Linked DNA regions of Homo sapiens: all the other regions are linked to region 3. Evidence: fine-mapped expression QTL. A gene starts in region 3. Each other region holds a variant in brackets. All regions are shown on one strand. Distances are between the middles of the regions.

What was found. PIP is the estimated chance that this variant, and not a neighbour inherited with it, causes the effect.
Region 1: its variant is fine-mapped to the expression of DDIAS in whole blood (INTERVAL, PIP 0.92).
Region 2: its variant is fine-mapped to the expression of DDIAS in whole blood (TOPMed, PIP above 0.99).

Annotation. Positions count from the first base shown.
Region 1 is chr11:82,030,698-82,038,883 of GRCh38, forward strand. All of the region lies in intron 5 of MIR4300HG (MIR4300 host gene), which reads right to left. Among named protein-coding and RNA genes, the nearest start is that of MIR4300, 140 kb to the left of the region's middle. The variant C/T (reference allele first, on the strand shown) is at 4,291.
Region 2 is chr11:82,835,935-82,844,120 of GRCh38, forward strand. It overlaps PRCP (prolylcarboxypeptidase), which reads right to left. Exons shown (of 9, transcript NM_005040.4): 7 at 3,327-3,491; 8 at 2,453-2,640. It overlaps LOC124902840 (small nucleolar RNA U13), which reads left to right and starts at 7,951; the gene lies at 7,951-8,051. It also overlaps the pseudogene EIF2S2P6. The variant T/C (reference allele first, on the strand shown) is at 4,256.
Region 3 is chr11:82,897,191-82,905,376 of GRCh38, forward strand. DDIAS (DNA damage induced apoptosis suppressor) reads left to right here and starts at 4,546. Exons shown (of 6, transcript NM_145018.4): 1 at 4,546-4,632. PRCP (prolylcarboxypeptidase) reads right to left here and starts at 3,240. Exons shown (of 9, transcript NM_005040.4): 1 at 3,045-3,240. The coding sequence starts at 3,212. It overlaps LOC124902602, which reads right to left and starts at 4,865. Exons shown (of 2, transcript XM_047427953.1): 1 at 4,858-4,865; 2 at 3,724-4,491. The coding sequence starts at 4,865. The coding sequence ends at 3,834. RefSeq lists enhancers at 2,966-3,015, 3,136-3,195, 3,346-3,445, 3,726-3,775 and silencers at 3,986-4,035, 4,086-4,175.

The DNA of each region.
Region 1 (8,186 bases), 870 kb before region 3:
CAAAAGAAGTGAAAATGGCCAGTCCTTGCCTTAACTGATGACATTACCTTGTAAAATTCCTTTTCCTGGCTCATCCTGGCTCAAAAAGCTCCCCCACTGAGCACCTTGTGACCCCCACCCCTGCCCGCCAGAGAACAACCCCTTTTGACTATAATTTTCCTTTACCTACCCAAATCCTATAAAACCCAAATCCCCCACCTTTATCTCCCTTCGCTGACTCTCTATTCAGACTCAGCCCGCCTGCACCCAGGTGAAATAAACAGCCGTGTTGCTCACACAAAGCCTGTTTGGTGGTCTCTTCACACAGACGCGCATGAAACTAACCCTGATAAATCAATGCCTAAGTGGTCTTCATACCACGTGAAGCTCCTTTTGGACCACTCAACTGTCTAAATCATGAGGTAGTTGGGATGAGGAATTATAATTTAGTACTATAGTTAAATAAATTAAATTTATCTCTTGAACATAAGGATTTTCCTTACATCATTCTTTCAAGTAAAGTTTTATTTGTATTTTTATCTAACTCAATGTGATTATCATTTACTTCCTAACCAAAGAGAGACTAGAAAATTATGAGCTTTTATTCTTTGCTACTCAGTGACCTAGAAAGACAAAGCAAAATTTGAAATGAAAACCCCCTAAATTCCTTATGCTACACACCCTGTGCCTCCCAGAGAATGGTAAATCCAGTCTTTTTTTTTTTTTTTTTTGGTCCCTTAGGACAATTTTCTGTGACTCTGTGTACACTGGAAACAAAATTGGTTAGTTATTGTTAGATAAATTTGTTGGGTAAATCCAGTAAAAATAAACCACGTATATTATCTGGAACACATATCACCTCCACTCTTGTTTCTGTCCTCATCGTATAAGTTTTGCCACTTGAAGTTGTTCATCCTTCATGAAATCTTTCATGCATAACTCAACTCTTCCTCTTGACTTAATCTCTCAAAAGTAGTACAGGAGCTTTTAGAAATACATTCTCTTGAGGGCAAGTACTATATCTCCTGCTTCTCCAGTTCATTCTATACCCCACTCACCCAAGATAGTGTGCTGGTTAGTAAGCCACTGAAGCCCCACTCAAGGCTCACCCTTCTGTATTCTGCCTAACCATAAAAAAGCAGGAACGGTACCAACCACACTTCTTTCCCTGCTGTTTTTCTGCAGATAGGCCTGCCATTTGCCTGCAGATACACTCGGCAGAGACAGATGATAGGGTGAAAAATCTAAGTATTGAGAAGGGAGAAGGAACTTGCACTGGCTGGTTTTGTTTGCTGCTTCTGTTAGTGTCACCAACAACATTTCTTCACCCTGGCTGCAGCAATGTATTCCACTTCCAATTTTCTTCCCATGCTCCAAGGATCAGCTTCATTTCGCTATCTCAGAGATGCAAGTTCTAGCTGTCAGTGACCTCAAATATTTGAAGTATCAGAATCAGCTAGGAAAAGTCTGTTCTTAGAGTTCTGCTGGCCCCTCTTCAAGTTCCTAAAGGCTAGCAGCTGGAAAGGACCCCTTCTTCAGAAATCTGTATCACAGGTTGTTAGGTGCCAGTAACTCTGACATTTTCCCATTTTGTCTCTACCCTTAGAGTTGGTAGATGCTTTCTTCAATAGTTCTCTCTATGTTATCTTTATGAAAAAGACACTTAAGAAAATTTAAAAAAAAGTGGAAGGTGATCCAAAAAAGTAATGAATATAGGCTGAGATTTTACAGCCTGCTCAAAAAAAAGGGGGCTATTCATGGTGTGGTCTCCCCTGAACCTAAATACAAGGTTCAGAAACTTAGTAAACAGGGAGCCAATAGGCAATGACCTGGCATCACCCCCATGGACACAAAACAGCTAATACTATTTTCTTTTTAAAGATAACTGGGGCATGCAGAGCCTTAATTTCCATAGGCAGGATTCCTTTTCTGCCTTTTCAGTTTTCCAGTACTTGTTTATACAGTTGCCTACATTAAATTTTATATCTTAAAATAACTAGTGTGGTTTCTAAAACCTGCCCGTACCCTAATTGATATACTCAGTGTCTGGAATGTTGTAGGGAACCAAAACATGTGTTGCTCCAGTCTTCTCAACTTCAAGGGGCTTCATGATTTGTTGAATCAAAGTTTTACTTCATTCTGGAGACTTTAATCATGCAAAGTCCTGAGGAAAAATGAAAGTTTACCAGGAATTGTTGCCACATAAAATCTATGTGCATTTCAAGGAAGAAAAAAGAAAGTTTTAAAGTTTTGGAATTCGAGCTCACAACTTAAGCGCAAGACTGAAATAATACAAAATATCAAATACATACTCATTGATAAGGGATCTGAATATATGCTTGCTCAATCTGCCATGAGGTAAGCAGCATTCCTGCATGTAGCCACCCAAAAACTTTTCAGGGTTAAGTGATTCAGTTCTGGTAGAAAGGAATCCACAATCCAGGAACCTTTCTTTATTAATGTGAAGATAATATTTGGGCGTGTTCCCATTTGGGCATGTTCCCACCATAACTAATATGGATTTTTATGTAAGTGTGCAGGCAATTTATGTATATTATCTGACTTAATATTGGTGAAACTCTTTCAAGCTTAAGTATTATATGCATCTGATAGATAAGGAAATCATATTTCTGATTGATTCAGCAAAGTGACCCGAAATCCCCAATTTGGAAGTGCCAGAACCAGAAGTTCAACTCAGGTCTGTCTTATTCCCACTTTTTTACTTTGCACCGTTCTGATAACCCATAGGTTTGGGAGTAGGAATCATAGAGGAATGGTCGTCTATCCCTATCTAGAGAAGAGACTAGCTGTTTGGTAAACTCTGCCCTGAGGAATGAAAGAGCACAAAGTAATTTGGATTAAGAAAAGAAGTTATGGAGAGCGAATATTGTAATTGCAAAAGTTTCCCTACTTCTTGTTCTCATTAGGCAAAATAGTATAATAATAAGCAGTGTCTTTGCCTTTAGAACAGCTGGAATTCAAATTCCATCCTTCTACTGAATATTTTTATCTTAGAAAAGTCACCTAATATCTGTAAGCCTTTGTTTTACTAACACCACATAACATTTTTTATTTTTAAGGAATAAATATGATAGATGATCGATAAATGTTAACTTCATTGACTTTATTAACTCTTTTATATTTCTATTTTCCATATTTATTCCTGCAGTGACTAATAAGAAAATTAATATATCTAAAATTAAAAGAACTTTTGAATCTATCTAAAACAAAACTAAAGAGAGAGGTTTTGAGCATATTTTGTAAAATTCCCTGAAGAACTGGGTGAAGAAACACTGGGTAAAGAATGATAAAAAAAAAAAAATCAAGAGCAGATTCAAAATGGCAATAGAGGTTGGCTGAGTATCTAGGCCTATCTAAAAGAAAAGGCGTTCTTAGTCTTTGATCCTAAAGATTTCAGGGTCTTAATATACAAGAATTAATGAACAATGACCTGGCAACCCTTTGACTGGATACAACCTGGCTATTACTTTTTTTTCTTTGTAGATGAGAAAACACACTCAGGCAGGCCTTCTCCCATAGCTAGTGAAGGTTAGAACGCTCATTTGGGTCCAATTTTTCTGCTTCCAAATCAAATGTTCTTTCCAATGTGATGCAGCTTTATAAATCAACTTCTTTCCCTATTATTCCGCTATTGAGTTTTCCTATTTTAATAAGATGAAAGTATCTGTTTTTTATTATACAAATTGAGAAGCAGTAAGAAGACACACACACTACCATTACATCTCTTCCACATCTCTGCTAGAGCTTACAATTTAAAGAGAAAACTGTCAGGGCATTCTTGCTTGCCTAGAGTGAAAGTGATCTCCAAATGCAAACTCCATATAATATGCACTTTGGATGTTCTTTGTCAAGCAATCTTATTTTCAGGAACATAATTGCTTTGTTCAATCAAAGTGTCTCCAAGTGCTGTGGGCTGGAGGCCTCATGATTTAGTTTCTATCAAAGAAATTCTGCCCCAAGTGGAGAAACTTGTCTGATTTAAATGAATATCAACAAAAATGATGATTTTACACTTTTCAGGGAAGAAATAGCCCCAACAGCTCTTGTGTGTTTCCAGGGACGTTAAGGGAGGCTAACAGATTTATGGTCTCATTATTGCCTGAAGCAATAACTCTTCCAATAGGTAATTTTTATGATGTGGGACCACAAAACATATGGGAATAAATGTTCTTGAATGAAGGAACTGGCTGTCAGGGTTTTCAAATACAGCAGTTACTGAAACAATAGATGATTTTCACAAAAAAATGAATTTCTTTCTCCTTAGCTTTTCTCTTATCATCTACCATTAAC[C/T]CCATCAGAAACACTTGTCTCTTTAAATAGTAGAAAGTGTCATACAATCAATTGGTAAACATGAATACAAGCATAAAATACCACATTCAATTAATATTCTAATAATAACACTAGATAAGAGTTTGATATTTACAATATAATATTAGATACTATTTTAATAGTCTGTTTTGTTGCTATAGAGGAATACTAACATTGGGTAATTTATAAAGAAAAGAGGTTTATTGGCCCTCAGTTCTGTAAGCTATACAAGAATGGAACCCACATGTGTTCCTGGTAAAGACTTCAGGAAGTTTACAATCATAGTGGAAGGCAAAATGGGAGCCAGTGTATCACATGGCGAGAGAGCAAGTACGGGGGGATGTGCCACTTTTTTAAACAACCAGATCTCATGTGAACTAACAGAGCCAGAACTCACTCTTTACCATGAGGGAAGATACCAGGCCATTCCTGAGGGATCCCCTACCGTGACCAAAACACCTCCCACTTGGCCCACTTTCAAGATTGGAGGTCACATTTCAACATGAGATTTGGAGGGAATAAAACACTTTTTGATATGGTTTACCGTATCAAAAATAATATATAATGGTAATAATAATAAACTATCTTCAATTAGTAATAATTGCCATACATTTTACTCCTAATCTGAATATCAAACAGAACTCAATGGACCACTAAGAAATTATAGGAGATGTGTCTTCTCATCAGTAGATGTATTTAAACAGAAATTAAATGTCCATGAGTGGGAGTGATTTTGGAATCAAAATAACTTAAACGTTTTGGAATGGACTTATGTATCAGATAGGGACAATACTAAAAATGATAGAATATTAGCCATTCATGGAAACTAAAGGAATAAAAAGACTTTAGGGACCCATGAAAATTAAATACATAAAAAGAAGAAAACAAACTTTTGTCAGATTATCTGTTCTTGGCTAGGTGTTTTGCCAGTTGTTTCAGTGCTTCCTCCAATTTATAAATTTAAAACCTGATAGTTTGAATAGGAATAGATGAGAATTTGGCATTAAAACAATATCTACCTGATTTTATAGAAGTTTTTATTTCAAGTGCATATTCCTAACCATATATAATAAGCCTCAATAAGCCAAAACAATTTTATGCTTTGCCTATAATAGATTTTAATAAGAGTAAATACAAGTTTTAAATTTAGTTCTAAAAACAACAACAATTATTCATGGATTTATTGCAATTTTCTGACACAATCATCAATATATAAAAGCAGTTTCCCCAGCCCTGCTTCCTTCCAGATCTTCTCAATCACATCACCTATTTCATTACCCTATACCAGTTATCACTATATGAAATTATCTTTGTCTTGATTTCATTGCACATTAAATGCTGTCTCCCCACCTCTAATACATAATCTCTGAGAGATACGTACTTCTCTTTTTGCTCACTATTACATCTCTAACACTTTGAATACTACCGGGCAAAGAGTAGAACCCCAATAAATATTTGCCGAATTGAATTTAGTCTTACCACAACAGCAATAACAATGTAGGCTTCCAATATAAAAGTATAATTGCTTATAAATGAGGCAGCATTGCACAGTAGAAAGAGGGTATTTTTGAAGTCAAATAGTTTACTCAGCACCTCTGAATCCATTGCTCCTTTAGTGTGAGGTGGATGGTGTTATCATTCTGAGTTTATGGAGGACAAACAGACAACTAGAGAACACAGTGAATTTTACAAAATACATAAAAATCAGAGATGAAACTAAAACTCCTATTTTGAGTTTGAGTAATATGAGAGCCATTTTATTTTATTTTTTCTATTATTGACCCACATGTTGCACAGGAAGTGGACTAAAAAATAATACACGACAAACAAAGAGGTTATAAAGGAAATGATGAGAGTAGTCAAATTGTAGTAGAGAGTACATTTTAGAAAGTATTGAAAAATAAGGTTGAATAGTAAAGTAGATATAGTTAACAAAGGGACTACAAATATAGGGATAAAATAATTAAATAGGGTATTATGCAAAGATATATTTCATTCTATTAAGAGTTTTTGACTTGGGAATCTTGGCATTTATTTTACCATGTAATTTTACAGGGCAAATATGATCTGCTGAAAAATGGAAACAGAGGCAATCTAGTATTTTTTTCTTTATTAAACCTGGTATAGTTGCATGTGTGCGTGTGCGTGTGATTCTCTGTCTGTGCATGTATTACGTGTCTCCAAGAAGGGTATAATAAGAAAAATAACGTGTTGCAGGTGCCATGACAAAAGACTGTGCAAACATAGTCATGGCACAAAAGCAGGAGTTATTTATTTTTTACTTTTTGCCAGTATGAAAACAAACAATTAATGATATCATTATATCAACTTTGGAGAACAGAATGATGATTATACTTTAATATTGATATTTATAATGTAGATTCAAGTATAGTCCAGGTCAGAGTTTTTCAGCTGTGTGCCAAGTACAGAATGTTTGTTCTTCAACAATTCAAACAAAAGAGACCCAAACCTGTAGTATCAGTAACTTTCTGGAAGCAAAATTCAAATTACAATGCTGATAGAATCTGTGAGGAAGCTAATTGCTAAAAATTAATTCCAATATACACAGACACATTTGAAATTGCATCACTGTAATCTAATTATTTTAATAGAAGCTAAACCAATTAAACATAATTACTTACAACCTTCAGGTTAAAAATATTGATGCAAAAACTGCAGCTATGTAAAGGCATAGTATAATATTTTAATTATATCCACAAATGCATTTAAATTAGATATTCCATTTTATCCACAAAGCAGTTTCCTTTGTATCTGAGCCCAATGAATATGATCTGGTTTGTTTAAAAAAAAAAACTAAATTATTTATTGACAAAATAAGGTGGTGATTGAAAACCACCCAAATTTATACAGATTTATTCTAACTCAATTTATTCAATTCAATGGGGAAGAAAAGTCAAACTGCTTCTGTGATGTCTTGGAGAAAAACAAAAAGGAAACCTGTTGATTGACAGAATTATTTTTGAGATCTACTAATAGCTATGTTTTGGTGAAAACATGTAAATATTCTTATTTTCATATTTAAGGATACCTTAGTAAATGGAAAGAGCATTGACTATACTGGGCATCTAGTTTCAAAGGATAACAAAGTACAACAAATACACTAGTTCCTTCTGAAAGTATGAATAGTTATCTGATAATCCAAATATTTTAAAATGTACTAAAAAGGTGTAGTTAACACACATTAGGCTTGGGCTTGGGTTAAAGTAAAAGACATGTCCTCAATCTTATTTTTCAAATTTATGGGATTATGCATGGATCCTGCTCTGTATATTATAAAGCACTTTAAACTGTATATTATTGCAATAATTTGTTGCCACCATGTGGCAGTCTCTAGATTGGGTCATGCCACCTCCACTCAACATTCTGAGTCTTGGTTTCATCACCTTCCTGGCCAGGAATTCCAGGAACTTTTCCACAAATCTTTCAGGGACTCAGTACGTGTTTAATTCACCTATTTCAGGGAGATTATTCCAGGGTAGTATAAGGAATTTTAGGACGTACACTTTGCCTTCTAGCTTAATGGAAAGAAGTCATCTCTCTTTCCTTGTCTGGGTATCAAAGTAGCCTCCCTTTCCCTGACCCCAAGTTAGGAATGACTCCAAACATTTGAAAAAATGTCAGGAGCCAGATTCCAAAACAATATATCCAAATTTTCATCTTGTGCAAGGGAATACTATAGTACTGGGAAGATTACTGTGTGATATATGTTGTTTTTTTCCTCCTGCTCCTTTCATTTCTACCAACAAGCATAAGATTATAGGACAGATTCCACATGAAATAATATTAATTGTAGGTTTACTGCAAAATGGGTACAGACCAGAATATCTAATTTGTGAGTACAACAACTAATGTTCAGT
Region 2 (8,186 bases), 61 kb before region 3:
GTAGTCCCAGCAATTTGGGAGGCCGAGTCAGGTGGATCACAAGGTCAGGAAATCAAGACCATCCTGGCTAACATGGTTGAAACCCCATCTCTGCTAAAAATACAAAAAATTAGCTGGGCGTGGTGGTGGGAGCCTGTAGTCCCAGCTACTTGGGAGGCTGAGGCAGGAGAATGGTGTGAACCCAGGAGGCGGAGGTTGCAGTGAGCAGAGATTGTGCCACTGCACTCCAGCCTGGGTGACAGAGTGAGACTCCATCTCGAGGAAAAAAAAAAAAAAAAAAAAGACACAGCTCTAGAAGATGAAGACAGCAAAAAAGACGATGCTGTCTCATTCAGCAATCAGATAGGCCCTGATAGGTAGGTCAGAAAGAGACTGCACATATAAGGAGCTACTGGATCATATGTTCAACATTATAAGGGGAAAGAATCCAGACACAGTTGCTTGAAAGAAAAGGAAATTCACCATGAAACCTCTACAGGTCGTCCAAGTAGGAACCAAGAAAACTCCTTTCATCAACTTTATGGATATCTGTAAACTATTACATCAACAGCCCAAATGTCTCCTTGCATTTCTTTCATTTTTTTTTGTTTTGTTTTTATGGTTTTTGGGGAGTTTTTGTTTGTTTGTTTTTTGAGACAAGATCTGGCTCTATTGCCCAGGCTAGAGTGTAGTGGTGCAATCTCAGCTCACTATAACCTCCACCTCCTGGGCTCAAGCCGTCCTGCCACCTCAGCCTCCTGAGTAGCTGAGACTGCAGGTACATGCCACCATGCCAACTAATTTTTATATATTTTGTAGAGATGGGGTTTCACCATGTTTCCCAGAATGGTCTCAAACTCCTGGGCTCAAGCAAGCCATTTGCCCTGGCCTCCCAAAGTGCTGGGATTACAGGAGTGAGCCACTGCATCCAGCCTCCTTGCATTTTTGTTGGCTGAATTGGGTACAAGTGGTTCTACAGACGGTAATAACCAACTTGTAATCAAAGGAAGATTCCCATAGAAACAGAAAATGTCTTGAGGAGATATATCAAGGAATATGTCATTTAAGTTATGGGGCTCCACCCTTATGAACAGAGTAGTGCCTCATAAAAGGGCTGGAGGAAACTAGCCCTTGATACATCAAGGAATTGTCAAGGTGATGTCACACATGCCAATCACCAGACACAATCCTGCAGAAGGGCATCCGACTCTATTTCTTACAGTGTGAAAGTTGTCCTTCTCAATGTTCTGTTGCCAGTATCAACACCAGGCTGTCACGGGCAAATAAGCACAGCTCCATGCCAAAGCTAACCAATTTGCTAATCACTAATTTTGCAAATTGTGTTGTGGAGATTTGGCTGGATAAGTTTGCCATCAGAGTGGATCTACCATTGTATTAAAAACGAGATTAAAAAGCTGCCAAGTTCTTTGGTGAGTAGTTGGTTGGTCTGAAATCCTTGCAAGATGGCAATGCTCAAGCTGGTGATATATCCATTGCCTACTTTAACAACTGTCAGAGAAATGCGACATGGGGTAAGGAGATGCCTTTTAAAAATCATTCATAGACTTCTGTAAAATGCAAGATAAAGTTTTAACAGATTTTTTCAAAAAATAAAAACTAAAACAAATAAAAGAACTTCTAAAAGAATGACATTTACAATTTTAAAAATAGCTCTGGTTAACAGGTATGTAGTGGCATCTCCTATTTCTATATAGACTTGGGGAAATTCTTGATTAACTTGTTGCTATTTTAATAGCTGACAACCTAATGTTCAACTCAAAACATGGAAATTTTGAAGTCCCAGTCAGATACACATGGAGTCTGCTCAATTAACTCTAATGTGAACCAGTGGCAACTGTGTGACTTCTTAAGGAACAGTGTAATGTAGAAAAACAAACATGGGATTTGTAGTCAGGCCATGATAGAAAGCTGGCTTTATCACTTAGTAACTAAAACAAAGCTGGATGAGCTTTGGCAAGTGATTGAACACAGTGACCTTCAGTTTCCTTCACAGTAAAAAAGGGGCTATAAAAACTACTTCACAGGGTTGTTGTGAGGATTTAACCAGGTAATTTATTTAAAGTGCCTCATTTAGTACTTGGAACAGAATGAAGTGGGCACTTCAAAAGTGATGAATACTGAAAATTTTTTATTACCATCAACAACAACATAACAATAATAAGACAAATTAAGAACAACAGATGATGCTTTATTTTGTGCTGGAGAGTTTTTTTAATATTTAAAAAATTTTGTTGCTGTTGATTTTTAAGACTTTCATAAAGCACATTGGTAATAGAGCAAAAAATCCTATCTCTTCTCAGCATCCTATCTTTCAAGGCATAGGAAAACATGACAGGTAGCACTGTTGTATTCTATGTTGTTATATTGTCCAGCATTTCCCTGGTTCTGTTTTTTCAGATATTCTACAAATGTTCCACCAACTGAAGTTTATCTTTGGACAGCAAAAACTCACCTGAAAACAATGTTTGTGTGTGAACTAATGTTTTTGCCTCCATACATAGTAGTGATCCAGGAGGGCCTTGGTCTCACACCCCACTGTTGAAAACAGTCATCAGAAAGTTCCTTTAAGTTCCATGAGTGAGGTTCAAACATGTCATCGACACCATTAGTACAAAAGGGCATGACTACTTCTGTGCAGGCCTAAGAAGCAAACCAAGAGAGAATCCAATTAGAAAAATGAGGCAAAAAGAGGTTAAATAAATTACACAAAGTCATAATGCTGGTAAGTAGTGAAGGCAGGGTTTGAACTCAGGCAAGGCAGCTTCAACGCCCTGTTCTTTACTTCTGCGCCATATAATCTCTCATTATTCTTAAAAAGACTTGGCCAAGAAGTCACGGAAGTCAGGATTATGTCCCTTCATAGCAAACTGCTTGATTTCACATTTATTATCACATTTAACCCTCAAAACAACTCTGCAAGGAAAGTTTATTATTATTAGTCTCATTGTGCAGATGAAGGACAAATTAGACTCCCTTTCTTTTATATGTCTATAAAATGCTTCCTTTGTAGGACTTATCAAGATCTATTGAAATACTACTTACTTACTTTTTTACTACACTAGATTTGATCATGTACCATTTATCTTTGTATCTTTGAAACCTAGAGGAGTGCCTGACACATGTAAGAACTCAATATCTATTTGGTGATTATTAAATGAACAAATGAATGAACAAGAAAACTTGTCCATAGTATCACAGCATAAGGTAACAGAGCCCAAAACTGGATCCAGGTTAGGTGACAAAATCTTGTGTACCCTGATTTTTTTTTACAGCACAACTGTGTCAGTGAAAAGTAAGTTCCACTTGGGGAAATTATACATATTTACCTGATAGCTCCAACCCAGTGTTCCCAGACTGCTAGTTGCTGTCTCTGAAATATTCAGGCATTTCACCTGGCCCGAATAATTGTAATATACATTCAGAGCTTGGAAAATATTCTGCAGCAGCAGTGAATCAGATACATTGGGATTTTTCAAATACTGGCACACTACCTGTCATTTTAGAAAGATAAATGGGGAAAGAGTCAGAATATGAATATAAAATGACAGTTTAATAACACAAAGAAGAAATATGATTTTGATCTGATCATAAAATATTCTTAAGCTACTAACTGCAGTGTTTAATTTCTCTCTTGGGTTTAATCCCCTCCATAAATGAATAAACCTCTTCAATTACTCCTTAGGCTATAGAAATAAACCGAAGTCATTTGCATGGTATGCAAAGTCCTCTCCATCTACCATCTTAGCTTCCTCTTTGCTGCCTTTGCTCCAGCCTAGGAAAACCATTCCCCACCACACCAGGCTCCTTCCCCTTTGCCCTTTCTCACCCTGAAACACTGTTTTCCAACTCCTCTCCCACTCCACTAATGCCTTTGAACACCAACTCATCTTTTACAACACTCAACTCAAATATTACCTCCTCTTCAAGGCCATCCTTGCCTATGTTTCCAAGTTGGGAAGAATTAAACCTCTCCCTTCTTGGTGCCTCCATTATACCCTGTACCTATTTTTATCACAGCCCCTGTAATGCTCTACTTCACTCACTTGATTTCAGAATGTCTCCCTCAGTACTTAGCAAGGTATCTGGTAAGTAAATGTTTGCTGAATGAATTACTATACTTTTATAAAAATGCAAAATTTATAAAATCTCGTATGGAAAAACTATACCAAGTTCCAGCATCTGTCGTGTGATAAAAAGCATATGCTGCAACTCCCCAGCTCCCAAATATTCCTATCACTATCCTATAAAAAATGCC[T/C]GGAATCCTAGCTATAAAAATCAGACAATATTCAGGGTTAGGAGTAAAGGTGAGGACTGACTAAACAGAGCCAGTGCAAACTTTCTTGGGTACAGAAATATTCTATATCTTAATAGGGTTACATGAAAAATGATATAATTTGTGTATTTCATGGTATCTAGATTTCACCCCTCCACCACCAGAAGAAGAACCATACACAAATATTGAACTCTTGTTAATGATAATAAAGCTGAAGTATTTAAGAGGAAGATGTCTGCAATTTACTTTAAAATTCATTTTAAAATAGGATAAATTAAAAGATAGATGAAGTGATGGATAGGTGAATATATATGTGACAAATCAAATATAATAAAATATTATTTATTGAATTTAGATGTTAGGTTCATGAGTGTTCATTGTCCAATTATTTTAACTTTTCCATATGTTTCAAACTTTTCATAATAAAATGTTGGAGAAAAATAACAGGCAATGGAATCATAGCTGAATAATACTAACAACAACAACAGCTAGTAATTATTAAGCCTTGGGTTTCCAACCAATACACCATGTAATCTTCAAAGAACCCTATCAGATAGATGATTGTCCATTATTTTACATGAAAAAAAAAACCTGATTCTTAGGTTAAGTCATCTTCAAGGTCACTCAGTTGGTAAATAATAGGGCCTAGATTTGTTCCCAGCTGTCTCTGGTTATGAAATATACATCTTATCCATTATGACACACAGCTTAGGAAGTGTCCACCTGTAAAACTACAAATAGTCCCAGTGGCAAGGCAAACCCAGTAAGCTTGAATCTCTATTGACTCTGACATGAATTCAGTAATCTGGTCCTTTTCCATTTCATACGGAAAAGATTATATATATAATAGACTAGTCCTGACAAAAAAAAGACTAGTCCAGAGAAGAAGCCAGGAAAGGAGCCCAGTCACCCCACCTCAGGGAGAGAGATTCTGGGCAGCAGGAATAACAGGGCCTGGGCTGGGGACATGCTCCCAGTCAGGAAAGGAGGGTACTGAGAAAGGATGCAACCAAACCCAGCCCCTCATCACAGTTCTGCCTGGCACCAGCTGCCAGCGGGGGAAAAAAAAAAAAAGGAAAACTGTAAAAGAGAAAATGAATTTTCAGGAAAATTCAATGCCTCTCCCCAAATATATTCTGCACCACAATATTTCCATGGAATGTTTATTGGTACTTTGTGGAAAAATGTTTCCTAGCCAGATAGTTTTGAGAAACTGTATATTAGCAAATGTGAACAGTTTTCCTGACTGGTTGTTATTATTATATAATCTCAGATGATTTCTCAGAACCTTTAACATGCTCAAATGTAATATGACTTTCCAAAGGAAGATGGAGTGTGCATCATTGCCAAAAGTTTTCAGAACTGCTGAATGTGAGAAAAGTCAGAAATTAAGATGTTCAAATAATTGGATATATCTTTCAAAAGTAACTGTGAGGTCATAAGAATAAGGAATACCAGGGTTTAGGATGTACATGAAGAGAGAATTGAGCTAAACTGAGAGCTAATTAAAAGTCAAAATAGTGTTTATTTTGGCAACTCTCGATTTTTCATGGTAAGTCAAAAAAATACCTAACATTTGCATGGCACTTTTCTCAGAAAACATTCCTAGGAAATATGTCAATAAGAAATAACTCAAGACAATATGGAAATCAAGAAACAATCATAAGATATATTAAACCATCTATTGCCAACAGTTGATCAGCATTCTTTCCTGAACCTGGACATAGATTCAGCTCTTTCAAAATGCAGCACATAACTACAAAGTAGACACATGGAATGCAGAGAAGCGCCTTATGTTCAAGGACAGCATGGTAGATGGGGAAGGGCGACAATGCAAGCTGGGCAGGGGGAGAGGAGGTAGTGATGTGCAGCAACAAGTGGCCCAAAACTCTGGAAAAGAACAGTAGCAAGTGAGTGTGACTCACATGCTGGCATCAGAGCCCCTCTTAGAGCTTAGAACACTGGGCCTCTGTCAGGCAAAGAAAAGGAGTCCCTATGAATAGCCATCTCCACAAATAGCAGTTACTGTCACTTCTTAAAAGACACAAGCATGGCTGGAGACCGGCACTGGCTGACAATACTTGGGTTTCAGCAGCCCCAGTTACACAGAGAGAACATCATGGTCAGAGACTTGGCCTCTGTATGATGGAATTCCAAGTCCAGATTAAGGGCACTCCCCAGGCACTGTGCTCTGTGAGGTCAGATCACCCTTGGAGTACTGGATCCAGCTTTGTACACAACTTACGAAGGGCACCGACCAACATTAGAAAATCTAGAAGAGAGCAATCGGGATGGGGAGCTGAAAAACAGCTGAAGCAACCCTAAAATTGGGTCATTCCCCACCTTTCATCATTACAAATAAGGCTACAATAAATACCCTTGGGGCTAAATCTTTCTTATATTCTTAATTGTTTTCTTGGGATAAATTCTTAAATTACTGGCTCAAAAGAGATCAACATGTTTAAGGCCCTTGGTACATCCTGTCAAACTGCCTTATAGAAAGGAAGTGCTGATTTTTAATTCTACTACTATGCTAGATAGAAAGCCTGAAAAAATGTCACTTAAAATTTTTTTGCAAAATATTTGCAAATTTAATATGGAAATTTTATTTTAGGTAAGTCTAAATTTCCTTTCTAACTCAAAGATTTTGTGAGTCCAAGCATCATCCTCTACCATTAAAAAACAGAATCTCTAATATCTCTTTGCACTTCCTTAACAATTTTGGTAGCAGAGTGAATGAAGTTTCAAAAAAATACTGAAGTCATATTAGCCAGACCTCAGCACTATTCCTATGCTTATTTAAAGACTAGAGTAACTCAATGCCAGGCACAGTGGTTCATGCCTGTAATCCCAGCACTTTGGGAGGCCCAGGCAGTAGGACCACTTGAGGCCAGGAGTGCAAGACCAGCCTGGGCAATATATCAAGTCCTCATCTTTACAAAACATTAAAACTTAACCAGGTGTGATGGCACGTGCCTATAGTCTCAGCTACTCAGGAAGCTGAGGTGGGAGGATTGCTTCAGTCAGGAGTTCCAGGCTCCAGTGCTATGATCACACCACTGCACTCTAGCTTGGGTGACAGAGTGAGACTCCATCTCTTAAAAAAAAAAAAAAAGACGAGTAGTTTAAAAGGAGATATTCACATACTTTTATCAAATAACTGTAGGATGCATAAAATACATAAATATTAAATTGAACCATATGAAATTCTCACATTTATAAGTCAAAAACAGTCAAATATCAACAATTTTGTCTTAACCTCATATAATACTTTAGCTTAACCCTGATAATGTGCAGATATTACTGACGTGACAAAAGCAAGCACTTGGCCTGTTGATTGTTTACATAGAGGCTGTGATATAATCAGACAACCATCTCTGTCCAAAATACTCAACACCCAGGTATCCCTGAACTTACTTTCTATTTATTTTGTGAGCCCTAGCAAACGGCTTCTTCTAAACAATTTCTACATAAGGCGTGTCATTCCTACACATACTGTAAATGCGCTGAAATGTGAATAGCTGGGACTGAGGTTGCTAGTACAACTACTGAATATTCTTTGATGGCAGGGCAGGTTCTTTCCTCACAATAACCAAGAGAGCACCATATAATGATCATTCCCATTTCACAGAAGAGAAAACAAGCTCAGAGGTCTGGCTACAGATACACAATTTAAAAACCATGAATGCAAGAAGCGTATGATTGGGTTTTCATGCTCACGTGTGAAATGGACCACCCTCAAACCTGGTTATGCTATCAGCACATTACCTGTCTGATGTGGGAAAAAAAAAAAAAAAAAGCACTATGAATATAGGTCTCAACCCAGACGTCAACCACAAAGTCCTGGTATAATCATCTGGTTTCCCAATATTACATAATAATAATAGCTATTATTATTTATAACTAGCATCAA
Region 3 (8,186 bases):
CAGGTAAAAGAAATCAAATAGTCCTACCTAACTCAATATTTGAAGACCTTGAAAAAGGAGGAAAAAATAATTAGTAAAGAATTAAAGTAAAAGATAAAAAGAAAAATAAAAAATGATTTGTGACAATTAAATGATGGTAGCCTTTGCTTTGTTTAGGTTCTTTTTGAATAATCATGCATTCACTCTTTCAACAACTATTTATTTTGTGCTTTATACTTTTTTATAGGCTCTTCTAGGTATTGTAGAGTACTAACGAGCTGGAGGGACACATACAATATAGTAAATGTGCAGGATGAAAAAAGACCAACTAAATTTCCTTAAAGAAGTCAAAGATTCGCAGAAGAGGTGAGACATTTCTGCTGGAATAGAATTATGAGTTTAAATAGTGGGGAAGAGGGATGGTATTCCAGACAGAATTTCTGACACAGTAAAAGTCACTTGAGTCTGTTAGGTTGCTAAAAGTGGGAGCTGGGATGGGGAATTATGGCAGAATATAAAGTTGGAACGACCAGCTAGGGTTACATAGTAAGGAACAATGGATTCCCATGCCAAGGTGTTTGGCCTTTATCCTGCAATCAGAGTTATGAAGAATTTCTAAGCAGGGGAGGGATAAGACCATGGGCTAAGCCTTCTTAGAGACCACTCCATAAAACCACATCCTTTATATACATAGAAGGACAGCTGGGTCCAGCTTGGTCACTGGGGCAGATATAACCACAGGTAAATCATTATAAAGTTTAATAAAAATTAAACCTTGAATAAAAAACTAAGCCTTACAGTTTTAATAATAAGTTTATTACTAGAAGGCATCAAAGTATTTCATGTGCTCTAACTTAAAAACTTAAAGTTGAGTTCACACATAGTCCTAACTAAAAATCAATGGTTCAGAAATTGGCAACTAGTATAATTATAATTATGCAATAAATACATATGTAAAAGTTTTCCTCAGAAAATGAAATAAAACTCAATTGGAATAGACAGAAGAAAAATTATTATTATGGTAATAAATACATACGTGGAATCTGTATCCTAAAATATAAATTAAATATAAGCCAGTGGACAAAATGTGGCTGAGTAAAGCTGGACTTTGCATATCATCAAAAATGGAAAAAGAAACAGTGTTGAATTATATTTCTAAGGAGTGTAGTGGCCAAGAAAAGAATCTACAATAAAGGAACATAAATTAGGAACTAAGGTACTAACAACTCATTTGTTCCCTTCCTCTTTTCTGCTGATAGTTCTCTTTTTCATCAATCCCAATGGGATTTTAGAGATCTCCCAATCCAATAGTCCTCCCCACCGTTTTACTTTAGCAGTTGAGTTCTGCAAATAGTTGTATATAAAATCCCAGCATATAAAACAGGTAAAAGCTGAAAGAGATCCAAGAGAGGGTACTAGAGCACCTAATTTGGCCTCCACTTCAGCCTTCATCCACTTTCCCTCTGAAACAGCTCCCCAAAGAGCCCTTAATTTTCCTCAGTAAAGTGTAAAACACATTGGTCCTTGTCCCAACCCTCCTAATTTACAAATGAGGGAATTATGCCCTAGAGAATTAATTTAAGGGAGTTGCCTGAGAAAAAAGATTATTTCCTAGTACCCCTGCTAAAATTAAAATGTTTTCTCTTCCTCATAAACTTGAACTCAAATGTCTGGGTTAAAAATTGTTTCTTGGCTGGGGACACAGTGGCACACGCCTGCAATCCCAGCCCTTTGGGAGGCCAAGACAGGGGCATCGCTTGAGCCCAGGAGTTCAAGACCAGCCTAGGCAAGATGACAAAATCCCATCTCTATTTTTAAAAATAAAAAAATTTTTAAATTATTTCTAAGTTATTCTGGAAGTCTATGACATCCCTCTACCACAAATTCCCATTCCAAATTCACATAAGGGCTGGGCTCAGTGGCTCACACCTGTAATCCCAACACTTTGGGAGGCTGATGCAGAAGGATTATTGAGCCCACAAGTTCAAGACTAGCCTGGGCAACATAGTGAGCCTTGTCTCTGCACAATTAACAACAACAAAATTTCACATAGGTCTATAACCACATATTATATGAGTGCCTACTTGAAGCCAGATACTCTGCTAAGAGTACGTTATCTGCTCTCATTCAACCATCACCACAAACCCCAAGAGATCAAGGAACTAGGCTCACAGAAGTACTGTAACCTGCCCAAGGTCACAGAGCTAGCAGGGTGGAATCCGGTTCTATCTGACTCCTAAAGCCAAGCTTCAGACCCTTGCACTCTTTCTAATCCCAACCTTTTCCAAATCTTTTCCTATTTTTACACAGGCTTTCAGAAATGCTGAACTGTAAGGATTACTTGTCATTTCACAGAGGATGTACTTTTCCATCAAGACCTGTGGGGGAATGCCTCATGCTGCAGCCAAGCACAAAGGCATCAAGCCCAAAAACCTCTAATTTCACGTTACAGACCATAGAAAGGCTAATCCCCACCCCCACCACAAACTCCTACAACTCCTTTTACAAGCATAGGCTACATACATTCAGTCTTATGGGGAATAGGGACTGTCAACAATTCTTAATAATAGGGCTACAAAATCAGCTCTGAGCTGACCCCTTCTGAGAGGCTGGCTTTTAGGATGGATAACTATCCAATATTTTCTAATAGGTAAAGATATTAAAATTTGTATTTAGGGCTGCCTTGGGGCAAAGGATGACTATCACCGCAGACTAGGTACCAGAGCTGGCATTTAATAATTTGAATTTGAGGGAAGGTCAAGGGAGTTCGGATTGGGGCACCCTCTGGGAGCAGAGGGAGTTGAAGTGACTGTCGTGTCCAATTACAGAAAAGCCTGAATCAAGAGTATGCAGCCAAAACTACTACCAAATTATTGGTAATGGGAGGAGAAAATTTAAACAGAACTGGGATTTGGGACCACCTTCTGGAAGATGTTAGCCAAAAACCGAACAGATCCTAGGCATCAAGGGGTGTGAATTTCGAGGTAGGCTCCGTTGCCCGGGCTCTGAGGGTCAGGGTTCCCGGCGGTTGGGCCTGGGACGGCGAAGCCCCCGCTCCCCCTTACCTTCTGTTGGAAGTAGAGAACCGAATAGTTCTTGGCTACAGCCGGGAGGGATGTGGGGTTGGTTGGCAAGTGTAGGCTGCCGAGGGCCCTTAAGGCCGGCCGGAGGGCTATGGTGGCCCAGGGCGCCAGAAAAGACAGAAGCAGGAGCAGGAGGGCTCGGCGGCCCATGGCTCAGGCTGGAGACTGCAGTGCGGGTGGGAGGGCGAAAAGGAGGCCAGCAGAAGCGCACAGGCTAAGCCCTGCCCAGCCTGCAGCTCCGCCCGCCGCAAAACAGCTCCTCCCAGGGGAAACCCAAAGCCAGCCAGCTCCTCAGAGACGCCGCCCAAGCCAGGTCACCACAGCCACTCCGCCCCCATCCCCGAGGACACCGCCTCCACTCCACTTTCCTCTCGTGCCATCTGCTCCTTAGCACTCACCTTCATTGCGGTCACACCCCAAGTCTGCCCTTATCATGCTAGGGCCTCTTCCTAACTCATCGCTGTAGCCCATGCTTTATCTATAGCGCCCCCGAAGCCCACCTGTCCTTCAGGTCACCCAATATCCCTACCATTATCATCACCACCAAACCCTGCCCTGGCCACCGCAATTCCATTGCGACACCTCCTGCCTTCCGCAAATCCTACGTAACGGCAATAACAGCTACCATGACAATTTATTGAAGGTTCACTACAGGCCAGTGTATCACGAGGCAGGGAGGCACACGCATCATCTCCTCTAACTAAATCGTCACAGCAATCTTGTGCGTCGTATATGATTGTTATTCCCATCTACAGATGTGGAAACTGAGGCTCAGAGAGGTGCGGGAACTTGCACTAGATCACTCAGCAGTGAGCGGAGCACGTCGTCGCAGACCGCTGGGTCCAGGTCCAAAGACTGTGCTCCTTGCACCCACCTCCATCTGGAGCCTAACCACTCCCTATGATACTCCGTTCTTGGGTCACCCCAAAACTGTGTTGCTCGCACAACCCATCCATTACACAGGTCGCCCCGGGTCCACATCGCCCCTAAATCCCGCCAGGTCCCGGTCCCTTCTTTCAAATAACGCCCCCTTTCTTCTCCGGCACCCGAAAACCCACTCCGCGCTCCACCCCCCTCCTGCCTCCTGCCACCGCCCCCTTCCTCCCTCCGCCCGTGGGTAGTGCTAGCCCCTAGGACAGCGCCGGGTCTGGCTTCCAAAGCTCCCTCAACCCTCTTCATCCAGCTTCCATTCCCTCTTTCAGTCACCCCGCCAGACCCCAGGGCGCTGCGGCTCACTCCACACTTTCCCGGGAACCCTACGCCCAGGAGGCTCAGCGAAGCTCCAAAACCAATTTTACGGACTGTACTACTGATCCACCTGTCGGGGAGAAAGACTCTACCCGCAGTTTGACGAAAATGGTCGTTTCCAGATGCTTGTAGGATTTCCTCGCTAAGCTCCACCCTCTGCGGCGCCTTCTTCTGATTGGCTCTGAGTAATCAGAGCCAAAGCGTTACTTCCGGCGGAAAAGGACGCGGGAGATTCGATTGGAAGGCTGCCGGCGTGCTACTGAGTTCGGCCGGTCCGAGTCACTGTGCGTCGCCTGGGCCCGTTCCTGGTCTTCTCCCCCAGGTGAGCTGGGTAAAGGGGTTCTCGGGAAGCCGAAGAGCCGGAGACTCCTAAGGAGGCTCTTAACTTCATTATGAATGAGACCCACCCAGAGCCCGGCGCTTGTTTTTTCACAAGTGGTTCTCTGTAAACGGGCAGCCATGAGGGTAACAGAATATAAACGTCAGTTATTTTATTTTAGACTCAGTGCTTTTGCAATCACCTAACGAACGTTTATTGAACACTTACAGTGCCATCGAGCTAGACTCGGAGTGAGCTTTTAGAATCGGAAATAGAGAGGAAAAGGCGCGACTCTTGCTTCTGTAATGTGCAAATACGTATTCAGTGGGCCACTGTGCAGAGTAGTACGTGCTGAAAGGGGATCTTCCAAAATGCTATGATGGCTTAGAAGGAACATATTTTAACTGAGCCATGTGCTTAAACCAGAGCTTGAAAGTTTTCTTCCTTTTCACATCCAGCCAGTCCCTACCAGCCTCTTGAATATCTCAGATCTGTTCACTTCTCTCCGTTTTTTACTGACATTATTTTGGTTCGACCCTATGACTGCTACATAGCTGTGACAGTAACCCCCCCCTCCCCCGCCGCCCCAGCTGGTTCTCCTGCTTTCAATCTTGCTACCTTCCAGTCCAGTCTCCACATTGCTGGGCTGATAAAGTTCATATTTGACCGAGGCACTCCCCATTGAAAACCTTTCAGTCGCTCCTATTTGCCCTCAGGTTTAAGCCCAAACTCTTTAACATGACTTACAGACTCTTTCCTATCTGACTTTTGCCTGGCTCTTCAGCCCTAGTGGTTTTCCACCGCTCCAGCCATATAGAATGTCTTTTGTGTTCCTGAAGTGCACTATCCTCCTTCTCACCCCAAACCGTCTTCTGACCCTGTCCCTGACCTGGCTAATTCTTAGTCAGTTTGCAAAGCCTTTTAAATCAGAAACCCTTTCCTGACCCCACAGGACTGGATCACAGAGCACCAAGTAATTATTTGTTTATTCTGCAGATAGTTAAATGCTTCTTTCGTCTGTGCCAAGAATTGCTAGGTACTGAGATCCAATGATGAACAAGGTAGATTCCTGTTCTAATGGAACTTACCTTTTATGGATGGAATTAAGGAGAATTTACAAGGAAACTATGTGAATTAGACTGGTCTAAGAAGACCTTTCCAAGGAGTTGATACTGATGCCTAAAAGATGAGCGTGATCCAACCATGCAAAAGAGGGAAAGAAAAACATTCTAAACAGAGTGAACAGGTTGTGCAAACGTCCTGAGGCAGGAAAGAGCTTGACATGTTAATGTTCAAGAATCTAAGGAAAGACCAGTATAGCTGGAATATATTTAGAAAGGACAGTTGTATGAGATGAGTCTGGAAAGATGGGCAGAGACCGGATCATGGTTAGGAGGTTAATCCAGCACCATAAACAGGAGATAATGGTGATTTGGATTAAGATGATGGCAGAATATATGAGGGAAAAGTGAATGATGGTTTCTAAGTATGGAAGTAGATTCAAGTACCTTCTGATGAGTGTGATGTGGGATATGAAGGAAAGGGAGGAATGACAAATGACTCCTAGGTATCTGGTTTGAGTTACTGGTTAGTGAGTAGTACCATTTACTGAGATGTGACCTTCTCCATCCCTGTAATAAATGTCTCATAAATGATATCAATGGAAAAACTGTATCGTACTAAGATTTTCCTGGTTCATGTTTTTAAAGCATTTTTCATCAGTATTTCTCCTTTCACTGAAGATTTTGTCTCTTTGTTTTTTTGCTTACTTAATTTTCACTCTCCTGCCTGCCTCTCTTACTTTTCTAGAATTTTCGTGTCAATGTTACTAAATTATTTTTTAGGGACTTATTATGACTGCCTTTAGAAAAATTAAACAAGTATGTGCCATTGGAGGAGACCATTAGACAGTGTTAAGAAAACAATTCAAAACAGCCACCCTTCCCATAGCTGAGGCCTCTTGGCCTGTAAAATATGAAACAGAAAATTGGAGAATTACAAGGTGACAAAGATTTTCATGCAAGGCAAGAAGGGTTTGGAGAGGAACGAAGAAAGGGAGAAAAATTAGTCATACTTTCTTTTCTTTATGCCATTAGAAGTGGAACTAGTTTTTTAAAGGAGTAATTTCATCCTTTGGGCACAGTCTTGAAGCAAATACACATAGTTTCTTTCAAGTGTGAAGCTTGAGCAAAGAGAGTAATGGACTAGAAAGACTGGTAAGCTACTCATCAGAAGGCATGAGTTCCAGACCTGATTAACTTCTCTGAGTGGATCAGATAATGTTGCAAAAGCACTTTGCAAACTGTAAAGCAGTCAAATGAACTCAAACTGGATTATGAACTTTAAGATAGGATTCACATCTTATACTTTTATGTTCTCTTCAGCCCCATCCCCAGATGCCAGTTTACACTAAATACTTAATTGAACTTTTTCTCTAGGATCTAACATAGAATAAGAATTAGTTTAGATTTTCTAATCTAACCCAGTTTTTCTAGATCTTCTAGTCTAGCCGGAAGAAGAAAAAAAGATGTGTTGGTATGTGCATGTATGGGCACGGTTTTTCATAAATGATTAAGTTGCCTTCTGAGAACTTGATTATGAGGTAGTTAAGCTGAAAGATCACCAAATAATGGATTAGAGTAAAGAATTGCAAAATCATCCAAATGAGACTAAGATGCTGTCAGGCCTTGGGGATTTAACTATAACCATGTTTATCACAAGTGTTACACACCATGAGATAGTCTCAATGACTAGGCTACTGGTTTTCAAGTGTGGGCAATTTGGCCATTACCTGGGAACTTAAAATGCAGATTCTCAGGCCCTTATCCCAGACTTACTGAATCAAACTCTGGAGTTGGAGCCCAGCAATCTGTTTTATCAAGCCTTCTGGGTGATTTTGATATATGATAAAGTTTGAGAAATACTTGTCTAGTATGAAAATGGGATGCAGAGGTTGTAATCAATGAGTTTATATATCTGGTACCACTGACAAAACCATCTCTAGAATGAAAAATGCATCAGGCATTAGCTTGATTCCATTAAATAGTTGATTCACCAAACAGCTCTTCTTCAAGCAACTTTCTGTTTATAATTTTAGTATAATATGAGGTTATACCAAATATACAAATATGGGCTTCTGATATGTCCCTTCCCTGTGATGGTAATTTTTCGTGGTAAATTAGTAGAACATCTTTGGATTACAGTTCAGCTCCCCATATGGCTTGTCTAAAAGGAGAGAAAGCAAGTATTCCAGAATATCCCATGGTAAATTAGATATGTACTATAGTGTGTCCACATGGACCCCACATATTTTAATAAGCATAAGTCTATTGGAGCCTTCATTCCTGGACATTGACCTAGGTAATCCCTGGTATGTGCCCTTTGAAAAATCAAAGGCCAACTGAGGCCTTAATTAGTTCTGCCCCAACACTTACACTTTTGTCCCTCTTTCTACCCTCATTTCTACTTTTATGTGTGAGAGATTTAAAGAAAGCAAGATTTTCTTTGTATATTATTGCTAATGTCCCTATCCAGCATTTTTATAGTATTTATTGATT